Linked DNA regions of Homo sapiens. The protein of the gene in region 1 interacts with the protein of each later gene in a pairwise test. Each region holds a gene or a part of one and is shown in the gene's direction. Other genes may lie near its edges.

Region 1 (3,861 bases):
CCAGCTTATTTTTAGTAGAGACGAGGTTTTGCCATGTTGGCCAGGCTGGTCTCCAACTCCTGACCTCAAATGATCCACCCACCTCAGCCTCCCAAAGTGCTGGGACTACAGGCGTGAGCCACCGCGCCCAGACTGTAGCTCAAACTTCTGTCTACATATCTTGGCACCCCCAAATCTTCTGGCCCGTAGATACAATCATGGTGCCCTGGGCTGGAGGGAAATCGGTATATGCAAGGAGTTCTCATTAAGGTTGGGACGTGTTTATTGAGTGGTTTATATTCAGTCAGGACCTCATGTGGTGCTTATGTTTCCTGATAAGAGCCAGCACAAAGAAGAGGTTCAATCTGTGTTTTTAAGGAAAACTAAGGAGTATAAAGGGGATGTGAATGTCCAGCTCAAAACTCCATCTTCATATGAACAGCCACATGGAGCTGGAACCAGATCAGGCTTTAATGTTTGAAGTAATGTCAGTTCTGCTGTTCTGACTCTAGGTGCCCGTCCTGTAGCTTTCCGGCTCTGTTGGACAGTGATGTGAAGAGGTTCAGCTGTCCTAATCCTCACTGCCGAAAGGTAGGGAGGCACATTTTTTTCTAGATGTATATTGAATTATGGTATTATGGGCTGCCCTCATGGCCCAAATATCTGCTGTTTACCTGACTGCTGATGTATAAGAAGGATTTGAGTGCTTTCCTTTTCATAAGCAAATGAGGACGAGTACTTTGTGAGTAACGGTTGACATGGTTACTGAGATGGCAGCCACTCTTGCCACTCCAGTTACAAAGCTCTGGATTCCTATTTTATATCATCTTCTTTAGGACAGATACTATAATGTAAAGTGGGAAGTGTTTAGTTTTTCTTCCACTGTGTCAACATTTTTCTTGCTTGCTCTCTTCACCACCTGTGCTCAAATAGCCCCTGCTACCCCTCCCTCCCCACACACACACCTTTTGCCATTTTCAAAGTCCAAACGACGCTTCTTTGATTGAGGAACTGGGCATCTTAGTGGCATCTCCATCACATCTGGTAGGTTATTTATTTGACTGTTTCTCCTCATGAGAACTGACTATATTACGTGGGAGCAGAGCTGTCTAGGTGCATTACTGTTGCAGATCTTTGTTCCCTTTAACTTGGCGCCCTGTGAACTAAGAATGTCTTAAAATCTTTCAGCTATTTAGAAGCCACTTAGAGTTTTTAGTGAATATTAGCATCCACCTAGACAAATACGCTCTAAGCCATTTTTCTAAAATTGCATGATTAGAGTTGAACACTGCAATATCTTTGCCTTGGGGAGAGTAAAGAAATTAAGGTAGAGATTAGAAAAGGAAGAATAAACTAAACTAATGGATCAAAACTTTATTTCTTTTGTTTTCAGCATTAATATTTCTGGCCATTTTATATGTTCGCACCCCAGGCTGTTGCTATAACAATTGTCACAACAGTCGCTGGCATCTTGCAGCTCTTAAGAAAGCAGAGTGCTAGCGTGTCCCTTGTGTGCTTCCAGTGGGTCAGGTGTTGGACTGCCTGGGGAGGTGATGCCTACGCTAAGATGCAGCAGATAAGGAGGAAGTAGCCAAAGGATGGAAAGGGTGGGAGTGGAGTGGAGATGGAGAAATGTTCTAGGCCCCGGGAGTGGCAGCAATGTGGACGCTTACTGGTGCTAGGAGTGTGAAGGAGGCTCATAAGCTGAGTAGGGGCAGGCCCATGCAGCACACTGTCCTGAGGTGGGGAGAGATAAAATATAAGGAAAGTCTACTTGCCTATTGAGTAGTCCAGGTGAGAAATGTACAGCACTGCACAGCCTCTTGGGTCTTCATGAGTTGCTTAGAAGGAGCTGGGAACTACATTTCCTGGTAAGGTTTCAAAGAAGGTCTGCCAGTGAAAGTGCTTATGTACAATTGGGAAGGCCAAAGAAGAGGAGAGACCATTATTCTCTGAGGACGTTTTTTGTTTTTGTTTTTGTTTTTAAGTTTTGAGGCAGGGTCTCACTCTGTTGCCCAGGCTGGAGTGCAGTGGCACGATCTCAGCTCACTGCAACCTCCGCCTCCTGGCTTCAAGCAGTTCTCCTGCCTCAGCCTCCCAAGTAGCTGGGATCACAGGTATGCGCCACCACGCCTGACTGATTTTTATATTTTTAGTAGAGATGAGGTTTCACCATGTTGGCCAGGCTGGTCCTGAACTCCTGGCCTCCAGTGATCCGCCCACCTCAGCCTTCCAAAGTGCTGGTATTACAGGTGTAAGCCACCACCCCCAGCCTGAAGACATTTAAAAGCAGCTGCATTGGTTGCCCAGTGGCTCATGCCTGTAATCCCAGCACTTTGAGAGGCTGAGGCAGGAGGATCTCTTGAGACTAGGAGTCCGAGACCAGCCTGAGCAACATAGACCCTATCTCTACAAAAAAAATTTTAAAACTCAGCTAGGCATGGTGGTGTGTGCCCATAGTCCTAGCTACTTAAGAGACTGAGGCAGGACAATCAGTTGAGCCCAGGAGATTGAGGCTGCACTGAGCCATGATTGCGCCACTGCACTCTAGCCTGGACAACAGACTAAGACTCTGTCTTTAAAAGAAAAAAATTTAAAAAATAAAAGCCTGAGGGCACACATGAGTCTGGAACAGCATCTAGTGAGTATCAACTTGGCATGTTGGTGGGAGCTTCCCAGGGGCTCTTAAGATCCCAAATAGGAACACCACATATGTTTTTGTTTGTCTATGGGAGGAATATACATGGCCTGCTGAACTTGAAGGTAGCCATGTAGCTTCTTGTGGTCAGTGAAACATGTGAGTAGTTAGATCACTTGCAGAAAAAGCCGTAAAGGCATGTGGTGTGGGGTAGTGTCAAGATGACAGAAGAGAAAGCTCCAGACCCTCTTTTTCCCATAGAGAGAACAGTTCAACAACAACGGAAGGACCATTTCTCTCTGTGAGAAATCCAGAAACCAGTTGCATCAAAGGCTGGGGAATTTGTGACGCTGGCTCTCCAGAGTTCCTCCCCCTGGCACAGCACCATGTGATTGGGAGGAAGCTCCCAACTCCTGGCATCTTTCTGGGGAGGAAAAAGAAGACTGGAACATATATCTAATATTCAGACCTTTCAGGAGGCTGCTCAAGGGACTGGTTTCTGTCTTGTCTCACAGGAAAGGGCACCAGGTTGGGGACCTCTGAGGACAAATGGGATGGTGAAACTAGCACGTACTGACTCCTCATTGCCCTCTCCCTGCTCTTCTCGGGAGGGAAGGAGTTGGAGCATGAGTCCAGCATTCTAGGTTTTCTGGAGTCTGCCCAAGACTCTCGTTCCTGTCTCACTCGATGAAGCACTGATGGGACCTGGCATGGTCTAGGTCCCTGGGGGCTGCTGAGAACAAGAGAAAGCTGGGTGGTTTGTACTGCGCCAGAGGACCCACGGTACAGTAGGCAGAGTCCAGTGCACCTCGAAGGCTGCTTTTTGGGTCCAGGGGAAGAGTAGAGCATGTGTTCAGCATTTGGGCTTCTCAAGGGGCTGCCTGAGGGACTGGCTTCTGTCTCACCCAACTCACTGCTGGCAGAACCCAACCTACTCTAGATGCCTTGGAGCTGCTGAGGCCAAAAAAGAGCTGGGCAGCTTACAGCAGCTCCAGAGGGCCTGTGATACCTCAGACAGGCACCAGAAGAAGCAAGAGCTTGCAAGCTCCTGAAAAAAGGAAAACAAAAGCCTGAGCACTTATATTAGCCTACGATTTAGCAAAATCTTCTTGCAGGAAGCCTATTTTAGAATAAAGTATGAGTATCTCATGTAATTTATTGAGTACTGTACTGAAAGTGAAAAAGAGAATGATTGTATGGGTACTTGAATTACAGTTTCTACTGAATGTGTATCACTTTCACAC
Region 2 (3,861 bases), on another chromosome or scaffold:
AGAATCACTTGAACCTGGGAGGTGGAGGTTGCAGTGAGCAGAGATCGTACCGTTGCACTCCAGCCTGGGCAACAGAGCGAGACTGGCAAAAAAAAAAAAAAAAAAAAAAAAGACAGAAAGGAAAGGACTATTGTAAAGATCTATGAATACATGTTTTGCTTATTAATTCTTTTTTATTTATTTATTTTTTAAATGTAGGGGCCATGCTAATCTTCTCTGCAGCATTCCAATTTTAGTTATATGTGCTGCCAAAGTGAGCACAATTCACTTTAAAGAATGATTTGAGTGAAACCTCATTCTGGGACTTCCTGCCCATGAATCGATGGGTTTAGAAACGAAGTGTGTGATGCTCCTTTCAGACCCAGAGAGCACGTGTGAATGAATCCACCATGTTCTGTATCGTATGAGGTGTCAATAACCTCACACCGAGGAAGGCGGATGTGAAAGTCTGCTTATGCCTTCAGATCTTTTGTAGACAAAAAAGTACCTAGATGGATGGATGATGGATAGATCCCAAAATGTATCTCTTTTTTTTTTCTTTTTTTCTTTTTTTTTTTTTTTTTTTTTTGAGAGGGAGTCTCACCCTGTCACCCAGGGTAGAATGCAGTGGAGTGATCTGCGCCCACTTCAACCTTCGCCTCCCAGGTTCAAGTGATTCTCCTGCCTCAAGCTTCCCAAGTAGCTGGGACTACAGGCACCCGCCACCATGTCCAGCTAATTTTTGTATTTTCAGTAGAGACGGGGTTTCACCATATTGGCCAGGCTGGTCTCAAACTCCTGACCTTGTGATCCACCCACCTCGGCCTTCCAAAGTGCTGGGATTACAGGCGTGAGCCACCGCGCCTGGCCCCAAAATGTATTTCTAAATCTATCCAAAGAATTCTATGCTGCGTTTCATTACATTCTGTGCTATATATTGCCAGACAAAGCTTTGGATGGAGTCTTGGAGACACAGAACACATTGGAGGGGCAGAAAGCAGGAGGTGGCAGGTGATAGGCCTCCTATTGCTGCCATTTTCCAATGTAAATCTTTGCTCGAGACGTGAAACCCCTTTGCCTCTTTTCTAGACCCTGAGAGCCCTATTCCAGTACAAACCCCAGAACGTGGATGAGCTGACGCTAAGTCCTGGTGACTACATCTTTGTGGACCCCACGCAGCAGGACGAAGCCAGCGAGGGCTGGGTGATTGGGATCTCACAGCGGACGGGCTGCCGGGGCTTCCTGCCGGAAAACTACACGGATCGAGCCAGTGAGTCTGACACGTGGGTGAAGCACAGGTGAGTGCTGCCTCTGGCTGCAGCCCCGTCATCTCTCTCTGAGTTACTGTGTGAGAGTGCCCACCTGCCAACAGTGTGCTTCTAGACCATTCCATTATTGGTAAAATTGCATTCTGTATGCTGACAAAATTATTCCTGCAGGTATATAGTAAACATCTTGGTTCGTCCCTGGTTTTCTGATGATAACATTCAAAAAAGAATGAATTACTCTGCATTAGAGTAATTTGAGATGGTAATCCCCAAATTACTGCAAAATACTACTTCTTTATCACACACATAATAAATTATACTCAGAGGTCCTGAGCTTGGGTTTATTTATTCTTCTGCTCCGTGTATGAAATGTAAAGTCCTAGGTCGTATTATTAGTTTTCTATGACTGTATAATAAATTACCACTAAAACAAAGTGCAATTATTATCTTATGGTATTTATGGGTTGAGAGTCAGAGTCCAGCTTCACTGGGTCCTCAGCTCGGGGTCTCAAGGCTGTAATCAAGGTGCCTGCCAGGGCTGGGCTCCCCACTGAGGCTTCACACCCTCGCCTGAGCATACACAGTTGTTGGTGGGAGTGATTTCCTTGAAGCTGTAGGGCTCCTGGTGAGTTGCTTCTTCATCAGCTGAAGAATCTCTTAATTTTAGCACCTTTTAGCATCATCTGGTGAGGCTAAGGATTTTCAGAATCATCAGATACTGGTTCTTTTTTGTTCGATGTTCTTCCCTCAATTTATCTCTTTCCTCTCCCGCTTCACTATAAATAACATGAAGAAACCAGGTGATACACTTAACACTTTGTTTGGAAATAGCCTTAGCTATGTGACCAACATCATCGCTTACAAGTCCTGCTCTCCATGGACAATTTCATTAAACTCTCTGGCACACATGGGAAGGATCCTCCTTGCTCCGATTTCCTGGAACACCTGTCACATTCCTTTCTGAGTTCTCCCCGGAGGATTCACCTTTAGCATCCCTATTTCCTCTAGCAGTCTGTTCATGGTGATTTGGGCTTTCTCTGCTGTGCTACTCAAAAGTCTCTTAGCCTCTACTCGCTGCCAAGTCCCAAAGTTGTTTCCACATTTTAAGTTCAGAAGGTTTCCAACTTACAATGGTTTGGCTTAGGATTTCATAATGTTACGAAAGTGATATGGGTTCAATAGAAACTGTACTTCAAGTGCCCATACAATCATTCTGTGCTACATTTTCAGTACAACATTCAACGAATTACATGAGATACTCAACACTTGATTATAAAATCGGCTTTGTGTTAGATTATTCCGCCCTATCATAGGCTACTGTAAGTGTTCTGAGCGTGTTTAAGGTAAGCTAGGCCAAGCTGTGATGTTCAGTAGGTTAGGTGCATTAAATGCATTTTCAATTTATGATGGGTTTGTTGGAACATAACCCCATCTGAAGTTGAAGAACATCCACTGTTTGTTAGAGTAGCACCCCATTCCTGATACCAAATTTAGTAAAAGTTTAACCAGAGATGCAGAACCAGTCACTTTCATACAATATATAATACATATAAGTATATGTACAGTTGTCCCTTGCTATCTGCAAGGGATTGGTTCCCGGACCCCCACAGATACCCAAATCCTCATGTTCTCGAGTCCCCGATATAAAATGCTGTAGTATTTACATGCAACTTATGCACATCACCCTGTATCCTTTAAATCATCTCTAGATTACTTGTGATATGTAATACAGTATAAATACTATGCAAATAGTTGTTATACGGTATTGTTTTTTATTTGTATTTTTTAAATTGTATTGCTATTTTTTAATTGATTAATCTTTTGAATATTTTTGGCCTGCAGTTGGTTGAATCCACAAATGCAGAACCTCCAGATACAAAGGGCTGACTATACATACATAGTATTTTATATTATATACACATGTATCACACACATATATATATGGAAAGGTATATATGTATACACACATCTATATTGATTTACTACAATGAATTGCCTTATGGAATTACTGGGGCTAGCTAAGCAAGGGCAGACAGGCAGGAAGGGAGGAGCCTACTTAGGCTGAAAACCCATGGGCAAGCTGAAGCTTGTTGTCCACATGTGGCAGTTGGAAGGACCACCCGGGTGATGGGAGAGCAGTCACAGACACAGCTGCTATTGAAGTCTCTGAGTGTGAGGAAAGCCTAAGTTTTTAAAAAAAAATGCCTTCCAACTGCATAAGTCAGACCTGCTCAGAATAACCTTGCTTTTGATTAATTTAAGCTCAACTGATTAGGGGTTCTAGTCACATTTGTAAAATCTCCTTCCAGCAGCACCTAGACTAGCATTTGATGGGATAGCTAGGAAGGCTGTGTGTGATGCTTAGGATGGCTACTGCCTCCCTTCCATCCTCCAGCTCTCATGAGAATGCCTCTTGTAGCCCACCCTGATCAGACATGTGCTAAAAAGGAAGTCTAGGAACTGTCGTTCAGTCTGGCCAAGTTGCCACACCATAAAGCCATTGCAAAGTGTTAAGGTGGCTCTTGTGAGCTTTTTCACTCTCTTCTCCCAGGTTCCAGTTAGGAGAGTGGAGAGAGCAGGCAGAGGTCAGAGTACACATGGTGAAAAAAGAGAA
Region 3 (3,861 bases), on another chromosome or scaffold:
CCGGAGTCATTTCCCTTCTCCAGCCCTGATCTGGCAGAGTTTGAAGCGGTGGGGTCATGTCTTTGCTGCAGATGCTCAGTCGATGCTTACGGAAGGAAGAAAGGAAGAGAGGAAGGGAATTAGAACCTAGTGACTTTCTAGGAAGAAGGCTAGAGAGCAGAGGTTAAGTACCCTGCTTTCAGGAGAAAAGCCTCCTAAGAGCACTTACTCCCAAGTTTTAATATCTGGGAGAAGTGATCTATTTTTCCCTGCACCTAGTACCTAGGTGTACCAGAGTTGTGGTGAGGCCACAGTCAGAAAATTCACTTAAAGCACCAGCACCGGCTGGGCGCGGTAGCTCACGTCTGTAATCCCAGCACTTTGGGAGGCTGAGGCGGGCGGATCACGAGGTCAGGAGATCAAGACCATCCTGGATAACACGGTGAAACCCCGTCTCTACTAAAAATACAAAAAATTAGCGGGGCGTGGTGGCGGGCGTCTGTAGTCCCAGCTACTCGGGAGGCTGAGGCAGGAGAATGGCGTGAACCCAGGAGGCGGAGCTTGCAGGGAGCCGAGATTGCGCCACTGCATTCCAGCCTGGGCAACAGAGCGAGACTCTGTCTCAAAAAAAAAAAAAAAGAAAAAAGAAAAAGCACCAGCACCATGCCTGATACATACTAAGTGCTCAGTAAATGTAGGCTCTGACTTTACCGGCTTCTGCCCCTAAGATGGCCAGTTTTGAACTTGGGGCAGCTTGCTGCTGGGGCAGGGGGAGGGGGCTGAAATAAGGAGGACTAGGCCAACTGCCCACTCACTTGTGTCCCCTGCAGGAGCTGGAGGATCTTCAGAAGAAGCCTCCCCCATACCTGCGGAACCTGTCCAGCGATGATGCCAATGTCCTGGTGTGGCACGCTCTCCTCCTACCCGTGAGTATCCATGGGGACCATGGCTTTGGATTGGGGCCAAATTAGGCCAGGGACATGGGCAGGGAGGGTTAGGACTAGGCAAGAATTTTCCCTGCTTGAGATCCTTTTACTGGAGGTTATCATTGCTGGAGGGGGCTTCTCTCTGAATTGATTGCTTCTGAGATCCAGATACTTCTGAGGTTCACCTTCTGATAAAGATGCCAAAGGACTTTTGACTTAGTAGGAGACCCCTTCCTTAAACCGGTAGCCACCAAGCCCACCACAGAACTTCAGGAGACAAACAGCATCAAAAAGAAGAAGAAATAAAGATTTCTTGGACCTTTGTCAAGGGGTAGGGATAAACTTCCAGGCTCTCACAGTTGGGAGAATTTGCTCCCGCAAACCTAAATTGTATTTTGTTTTTCTGTAGTCTTATTTCAGAAAATTGTTACATATGAAAACACAAATAGCTCATTTCTACTGTTCTTATTTTTCTCTGTTTATTATTTGGTATTTTCTTGATAAAGTCTCTCTGAAAGCAGTATTCCAAAATAGTTTTCAGAGTGCAAGATCTCTCTTTTTTTCATCCGATTATTAGTGACTAAAGATACTTTGAGAAATTAATCTACACTTTTCATTACTTGGAAATAAAATTTAAGACATTGAACTTTTTGTTAGTCAAAGCTCTTTGGAATATCAAAGGAACAATTCATCTTATCATTTAGGATTTGGACTTGTTTTTTTTTTTGAGACAGAGTCTTACTGTGTCACCCAGGCTGGAGTGCAGTGATGCGATGTTCGTTTCCTGCAACCTCCACTCTGGGGTTCAAGCGATTCTCCTGCCTCAGCCTCCTGAGTAGCTGTGACTACAGGCACGTGCCACTATGCCTGGCTAATTTTTGTGTTTTTAGTGGAGACAGGATTTTGCTATGTTGGCCAGGCTGGTCTCAAACTCCTGGCCTCAAGTGATCTGCCCACCTCGGCCTCCTAAAGTGCTGGGATTACAGGTGGAGCCACCACACCCGGCAGGATTTACTTTTTATTGACAATGCAGTGGCCTAGGTTGTGTCGTCTTCTCTTTAAACTGACCTATAGTCCAGAAAAGTAGAGAAAGGCCTGAGTCAGGTCAACATGGGAACCTCTGTCAAGTCCCTTGGGTTACTGTGTTGAAACGATCCACTTACCTGGCTTAGAGTGAGGACACCTGTTCTAGGCCTCAGGTGCCGGGAGAAGATGCTCAAAGGAGCTCCAGGGACTGATTATATCTCCAAGGAGACCAACTTTGAGATGATGAAAGCAGGGGTGATAGGAAAACCTAGGAAAGGTCTCGTTTGGCAGAGTACTATGAAATCAGAGGACCTCAATAGTTGGCAAGACCAAGGTGGTTAAGTGCGCCCCAGGAACTGGCCACAGACCTTCCAGCCATATAGGAGTCCTGAAGAAACATGATACTTGGGAGGAATCCCAGAGCTGGAGGACCAAAGCTTGATGTAAGTCATCAGCTAAGGGGGCCTGAAGGTGCCTGGTGAGGCCATAAAGGAGGGGATGGTTGACTGGCAGAGGAAGGAGAACCAGGAAAGGTCTTTTGGAATAGCACACAAATTCCTCCTCAAAGGCTCAGTCTCAGTTTATGTGTTCACCAAAGTGGCCCCACTTGTCACATCTTGGTCATGGAAGGATTCAGCTCGATGAGTCTTTCGAAGCTAATAGTAAAATTCTCATTCCTTGAGAGTTTCCTGTGGACCAAGTGCTGTTTTAAGCACACGACATATGAGGTCATATTGAATCCTCTCAACCATCCAGTGAGGAAGGTTGTCTTCCTCTTAAAATTGCAGAGATGGAAACCAAGGAGGTTAAGTAACTGGTCTGGGGTCACTCAGAATAAGGTGGCAGGAGTGGAATTCAGCGGACTCCAGGGTCTTCTCTTTTAACCACTCCATGAAAAATGAATAGTTTTCAAAATTTTTTAAAAAGTAGCAGGCCGGGCACGGTGGCTTACACCTGTAATCCCAGCACTTTGAGAGGCTGAGGTGGGTGGATCACTGGAGGTCAGAAGTTTGAGACCAGCCTGGCCAACATGGTGAAACCCTGTCTCTAGTAAAAATACAAAAATTAGCTGGGCATGGTTGTGGGCACCTATAATCCCAGCTACTCAGGAGGCTGAGGCACGAGAATCACTTGAACCCGGGAGTTGGAGGTTGTAGTGAGCTGAGATTGGGCCATCGCACTCCAGCCTGGATGACAAGAGCAAAACTCTGTCTCAAAAAAACAAAACAAAATAAAGTAGCAAAATCCTTTATTTAACCTAGAACTTAGAAGGTAGTGGGACTTTCTCAACTGACTGTAAGATACAGCATGGAATCCTCTGGTCCAGCTTCTCCATTTTACAGACGAGGAAACTGATCCTCAGAGAAAGCTCAGTCATACAGCAAGCCCGAGGCAGAGCTGGGACAGGTCCCCGGAGCTCTCAGCTCCATGACTCTGCTACCTCCTTCCTCTGTTAAGTCCTACGAAGCCCAGAAAGAAGCCCCTTCAGGCAGGACACACTGATACCCCTGTCTTAGTCCATTAGTGTTGCTGTAAAGGAATACCCGAGGCTGAGTAATATATAAAGAAAAGAGGTTAATTTGGCTCAAGCTTCTGCAGGCTGTACAAGAAGCATGGCGCTGGGCATGGTGGCTCACGTCTATAATCCCATGTCTTTGGGAGGCCGAGGAGGGCGGATCACCTGAGGTCAGAAGTTCAAGACCAGCCTGACCAACATGGAGAAACCCTGTCTCTACCAAAAATACAAAATTAGCTGGGTGTGGTGGTGCATGCCTATAATCCCAACTAGTTGGGAGGCTGAGGCAGGAGAATCGCTTGAACCTAGGAGGCAGAGGTTGCGGTGAGCCGAGATCACGCCATTGCACTCCAGCCTGGGCAGCAAAGTGAAACTCCATCTCAAAAAAAAAAAAAAAAAGAAGCATGGCACCAG
Region 4 (3,861 bases), on another chromosome or scaffold:
GCCCTTTGACCCCTCTAAAGTCGTGGCATCGGGGCCAGGTCTCGAGCACGGGAAGGTGGGTGAAGCTGGCCTCCTTAGCGTCGACTGCTCGGAAGCGGGACCGGGGGCCCTGGGCCTGGAAGCTGTCTCGGACTCGGGAACAAAAGCCGAAGTCAGTATTCAGAACAACAAAGATGGCACCTACGCGGTGACCTACGTGCCCCTGACGGCCGGCATGTACACGTTGACCATGAAGTATGGTGGCGAACTCGTGCCACACTTCCCCGCCCGGGTCAAGGTGGAGCCCGCCGTGGACACCAGCAGGATCAAAGTCTTTGGACCAGGAATAGAAGGGAAAGGTGGGTTTCATTTAAAAAAAAAAAAAAAAAAAAAAAGACAAGCTGGGACTTAAGGGCTACCTGAAACTTGGAGCTGCAAACTCAGCCACCTGCAGGAGCCAGGTGACATATAAGGCGGTGCTCACCTGTTCCCTCTGCCTCGGGGAGTAGTTGGGGGGCCCTGGTGAAGGTTAAGCACATTGCATTTCTGGGGACCGTGCTACTCAACCCCTGTTTTCTGTTTCTCCATGGGGAACAGGACCTAGCATTGTCAGCAGAATCTCTAGTTTTTTGGCAAAGGCAGAAATCTTGATTTTTCTCTGGAAACTCAACATACAACATGTTGGCATTTAATTGGAAAAAAGTTTAAAATGTAGTGTTGTCTAACACCTGCATGCCACACAGCAGGTTAGTCTTCAACCTTTAACCTGTCCTCGAGCCCGGTGTGAGCAGTCGTGTTGTCACTTAGCCGTGGCTACTCTAGAAAGGCCTTCTTTGGGATGGAGGGGGTTAATATTCTTGATTTGAGAGTTAGAAAAACCAGTTTTCCAGTTACTGAAATTGGACTTCATGTGTCCTGAAGTGCCAAGAACCTTGGTTCTGGGGTTTGCTTTTGGGTCTGGGGTACTGGTGGCAGTGTTAGCTATGTGCTTGCTCTGCAGATGTGTTCCGGGAAGCTACCACCGACTTTACAGTTGACTCTCGGCCGCTGACCCAGGTTGGGGGTGACCACATCAAGGCCCACATTGCCAACCCCTCAGGGGCCTCCACCGAGTGCTTTGTCACAGACAATGCGGATGGGACCTACCAGGTGGAATACACACCCTTTGAGAAAGGTGAGCCGCCCTGTCCTCGGACTGGACCCTCGTTCAGAGCTGCCCTTGGTCATTGCCTCCTGGTGGCTGGTACTGATGCCTGCCCCATGTGCTAGGCCTGTCTCAGCAGGGCCACGTGCAGAGTGACAGAGTGGAAGTCAGCGTCCGCTGCAGTCACCTGCCCACTCAGTGCCTGGCTTGCTGGCCTTGTGTAATAGGTGGGCTGGGTTTAGCCTCAGTCTCACCTCAGCAAGTTATGGGGTAATGTCATGATGTTGCTCATTTGTGCCATTTTTCTTTGCGTATGAATTTCTTTCTTCTTGAGTATTAGGAATTATAAAAAATTTCAATAAATAGAAAACCATAAAGAAAAAAAAGTGCCATGTATATCTCCACTACCTGGAGATCGGAAGCCTGCGATATTCTGATATAGATATTTTCAGTCTTCTTGTGGATGCCTGTTTCTTCTGTTTCACGGGTTTCGCTTTTTCTTTTGGTTAATGGCTGGATGGTGTTTTCCCGAATGAGAGTAGTCTGTTTAGGATGACTGACTTGAATATTTGCTTGGTTGGGGTGGAGTGGCTTATGTGACTGCAGATAGACGGTTTGTATTATTTAAAAGTCAGATCATACCTACATTACTGTGGGATTGTTTTGTTTTGTTTTGAAACAGGATGTCACTCTGTTGCCCAGGCTGGAGTGCAGTGGTGTGATCACGGCTCACTGCAGGCTCAACCTCCTGGGCTCAAATGATCCTCCTGCCTCAGCCCCCTGAGTAGCTGGAACTGCAGGTGTGCACCACCACACTCAGCTAATTTTTGTATTTTTTGTAGAGATGGGGTCTCGCCATGTTGCCCAGGCTGGTCTTGAACTCCTGGACTCAAGTGATCTACCCACCTCGGCCTCCCAAAGTGCTGGGATTATAGGTGTAAGCCACTGCCCCCAGCCACATTACTGTGTTTTTAACCCCCTTTTCCAAATAACATAGTATAGCATGCAGACTTCGATGCTAGATGAAACTCTGAAGTAGAGAATCATTTTTCACAAATAGGGGATTTGTATGCAAATATGCGTTTCTGTTTGTTGTTTTGAGCAGGTCTCCATGTAGTGGAGGTGACATATGATGACGTGCCTATCCCAAACAGTCCCTTCAAGGTGGCTGTCACTGAAGGCTGCCAGCCATCTAGGGTGCAAGCCCAAGGACCTGGATTGAAAGAGGCCTTTACCAACAAGCCCAATGTCTTCACCGTGGTTACCAGGTAGGCAAGGCCCTACATTTGGTGTCTTGAGTCTCACTTTTGTGGCTAGATTCTACCTATGTGTCATGGTTTCCTAACTTTTGATAAGATGAATTTTTATTTTTATAACATGTATTTCCTTCTGTAGAGACTTATGTTACATAGAAAGACCAAGCATACCTAAAAAACATACCAAAGCACTTGATAATGGTCATGAAACTATTTAGCAAACCAGGAGTCAATCAAGCTCTATAACTTGATAATGTAAAAATTTGTAGCCAACCTTGTAAGTATTTTTATTAAAGTTGGTTGCAAGGCATATGCCTGCGTTGTACTTGCAGTCCTAGCCAGTGCAATTAGATAAGAAAAATAGGCTGGGTGTGGCGGCTCACACCTGTAATCTCAGCACTTCAGGTGGCCGAGACGGGACAATTGCTTGAGGCCAGGAGTTTGAGACCAGCCTGGCCAACATGGCAAAACCCCATCCCTACAAGAAATATAAAAATTAGCTGGGCTTGGTAGTACACGCCTGTAATCCCAGCTACTACTTGGGAGGCTGAGGCATGTGAATTGCTTGAACCCAAGAGACATAGGTTGCAGTGAGCCGAGACCGCGCCACTGCACTCCAGCCTGGGCAATGGAGTGAGACTCTGTCTCAGGAAAAAGAAAAATAAATGAAGCATAAGCATTGAAAATGAGGGGTCAGAGTGTCTTTACTTACATTATACTAATGTGAAATTCCCTATGTGAGAGGTGTAGTAATTGAGTTGGGGTGGCTACGTGGAATAGTTTATAAAGGGAATTTGCATGAATTTTGGCAATAAGCAGACCAGCATAAATAAATGGTGCACATTTCACTTTCTTTTCCACTCTTTCCAGAGGCGCAGGAATTGGTGGGCTTGGCATAACTGTTGAGGGACCATCAGAGTCGAAGATAAATTGCAGAGACAACAAGGATGGCAGCTGCAGTGCTGAGTACATTCCTTTCGCACCGGGGGATTACGATGTTAATATCACATATGGAGGAGCCCACATCCCCGGTGAGCTATTCCTCAGAGAGGACCCCAGAGAATAATTGATTTTGCAGGAAAATGGGTTTGATTTTGGTTATCTCTCTGAGTGGGGAAAACAATCTGATATTTGTAATAGCTGCAAAAGGAGAGTTTTTCTTAGGGCTACATCTCCAAGATTATCTCAACTCCCAGTAGAACCGGTAACATGGCAAAAAGCATCGGCTTAGAATTTTGACTGGAAACAGTTGTGCGTGTGTTGGAGGACCTAGTTCTTGATTCAGGGGAAAGCTGGTTCTTTACAAAGTTGAAAATCACAGTGGCTCACACCTGTAATCCCCAAACTTTGGGAGGCCAAGGCATGCAGATTGCTTCAGGTCAGGAGTTTGAGACCAGCCCAGGCAACATGGGGAATCCCCATCTTTACAAGAAATACAAAACTTAGCTGAGTGTGATGGTGCGTGCCTGTAATCCTAGCTAT

What was found. The genes of interacting proteins can lie anywhere in the genome.
Region 2: the proteins of RNF216 (region 1) and UBASH3A interact in binary tests that used the Homo sapiens proteins (3 or more experiments, as listed by UniProt).
Region 3: the proteins of RNF216 (region 1) and UBE2L6 interact in binary tests that used the Homo sapiens proteins (3 or more experiments, as listed by UniProt).
Region 4: the proteins of RNF216 (region 1) and FLNB interact in a two-hybrid assay, tested with the Homo sapiens proteins (one study listed by BioGRID).

Annotation. Positions count from the first base shown.
Region 1 is NC_000007.14:5,708,470-5,712,330, reverse strand, and holds part of RNF216 (E3 ubiquitin-protein ligase RNF216), read left to right. Parts: intron 1-420; exon of another isoform or gene 421-491; coding exon 492-570; intron 571-3,861.
Region 2 is NC_000021.9:42,417,333-42,421,193, forward strand, and holds part of UBASH3A (ubiquitin-associated and SH3 domain-containing protein A), read left to right. Parts: intron 1-1,068; coding exon 1,069-1,277; intron 1,278-3,861. UniProt on the Homo sapiens protein: Interferes with CBL-mediated down-regulation and degradation of receptor-type tyrosine kinases. Promotes accumulation of activated target receptors, such as T-cell receptors, EGFR and PDGFRB, on the cell surface.
Region 3 is NC_000011.10:57,557,381-57,561,241, reverse strand, and holds part of UBE2L6 (ubiquitin/ISG15-conjugating enzyme E2 L6), read left to right. Parts: intron 1-809; coding exon 810-905; intron 906-3,861. UniProt on the Homo sapiens protein: Catalyzes the covalent attachment of ubiquitin or ISG15 to other proteins. Functions in the E6/E6-AP-induced ubiquitination of p53/TP53. Promotes ubiquitination and subsequent proteasomal degradation of FLT3.
Region 4 is NC_000003.12:58,123,353-58,127,213, forward strand, and holds part of FLNB (filamin-B), read left to right. Parts: coding exon 1-338; intron 339-979; coding exon 980-1,153; intron 1,154-2,228; coding exon 2,229-2,391; intron 2,392-3,249; coding exon 3,250-3,410; intron 3,411-3,861. UniProt on the Homo sapiens protein: Connects cell membrane constituents to the actin cytoskeleton. May promote orthogonal branching of actin filaments and links actin filaments to membrane glycoproteins. Anchors various transmembrane proteins to the actin cytoskeleton.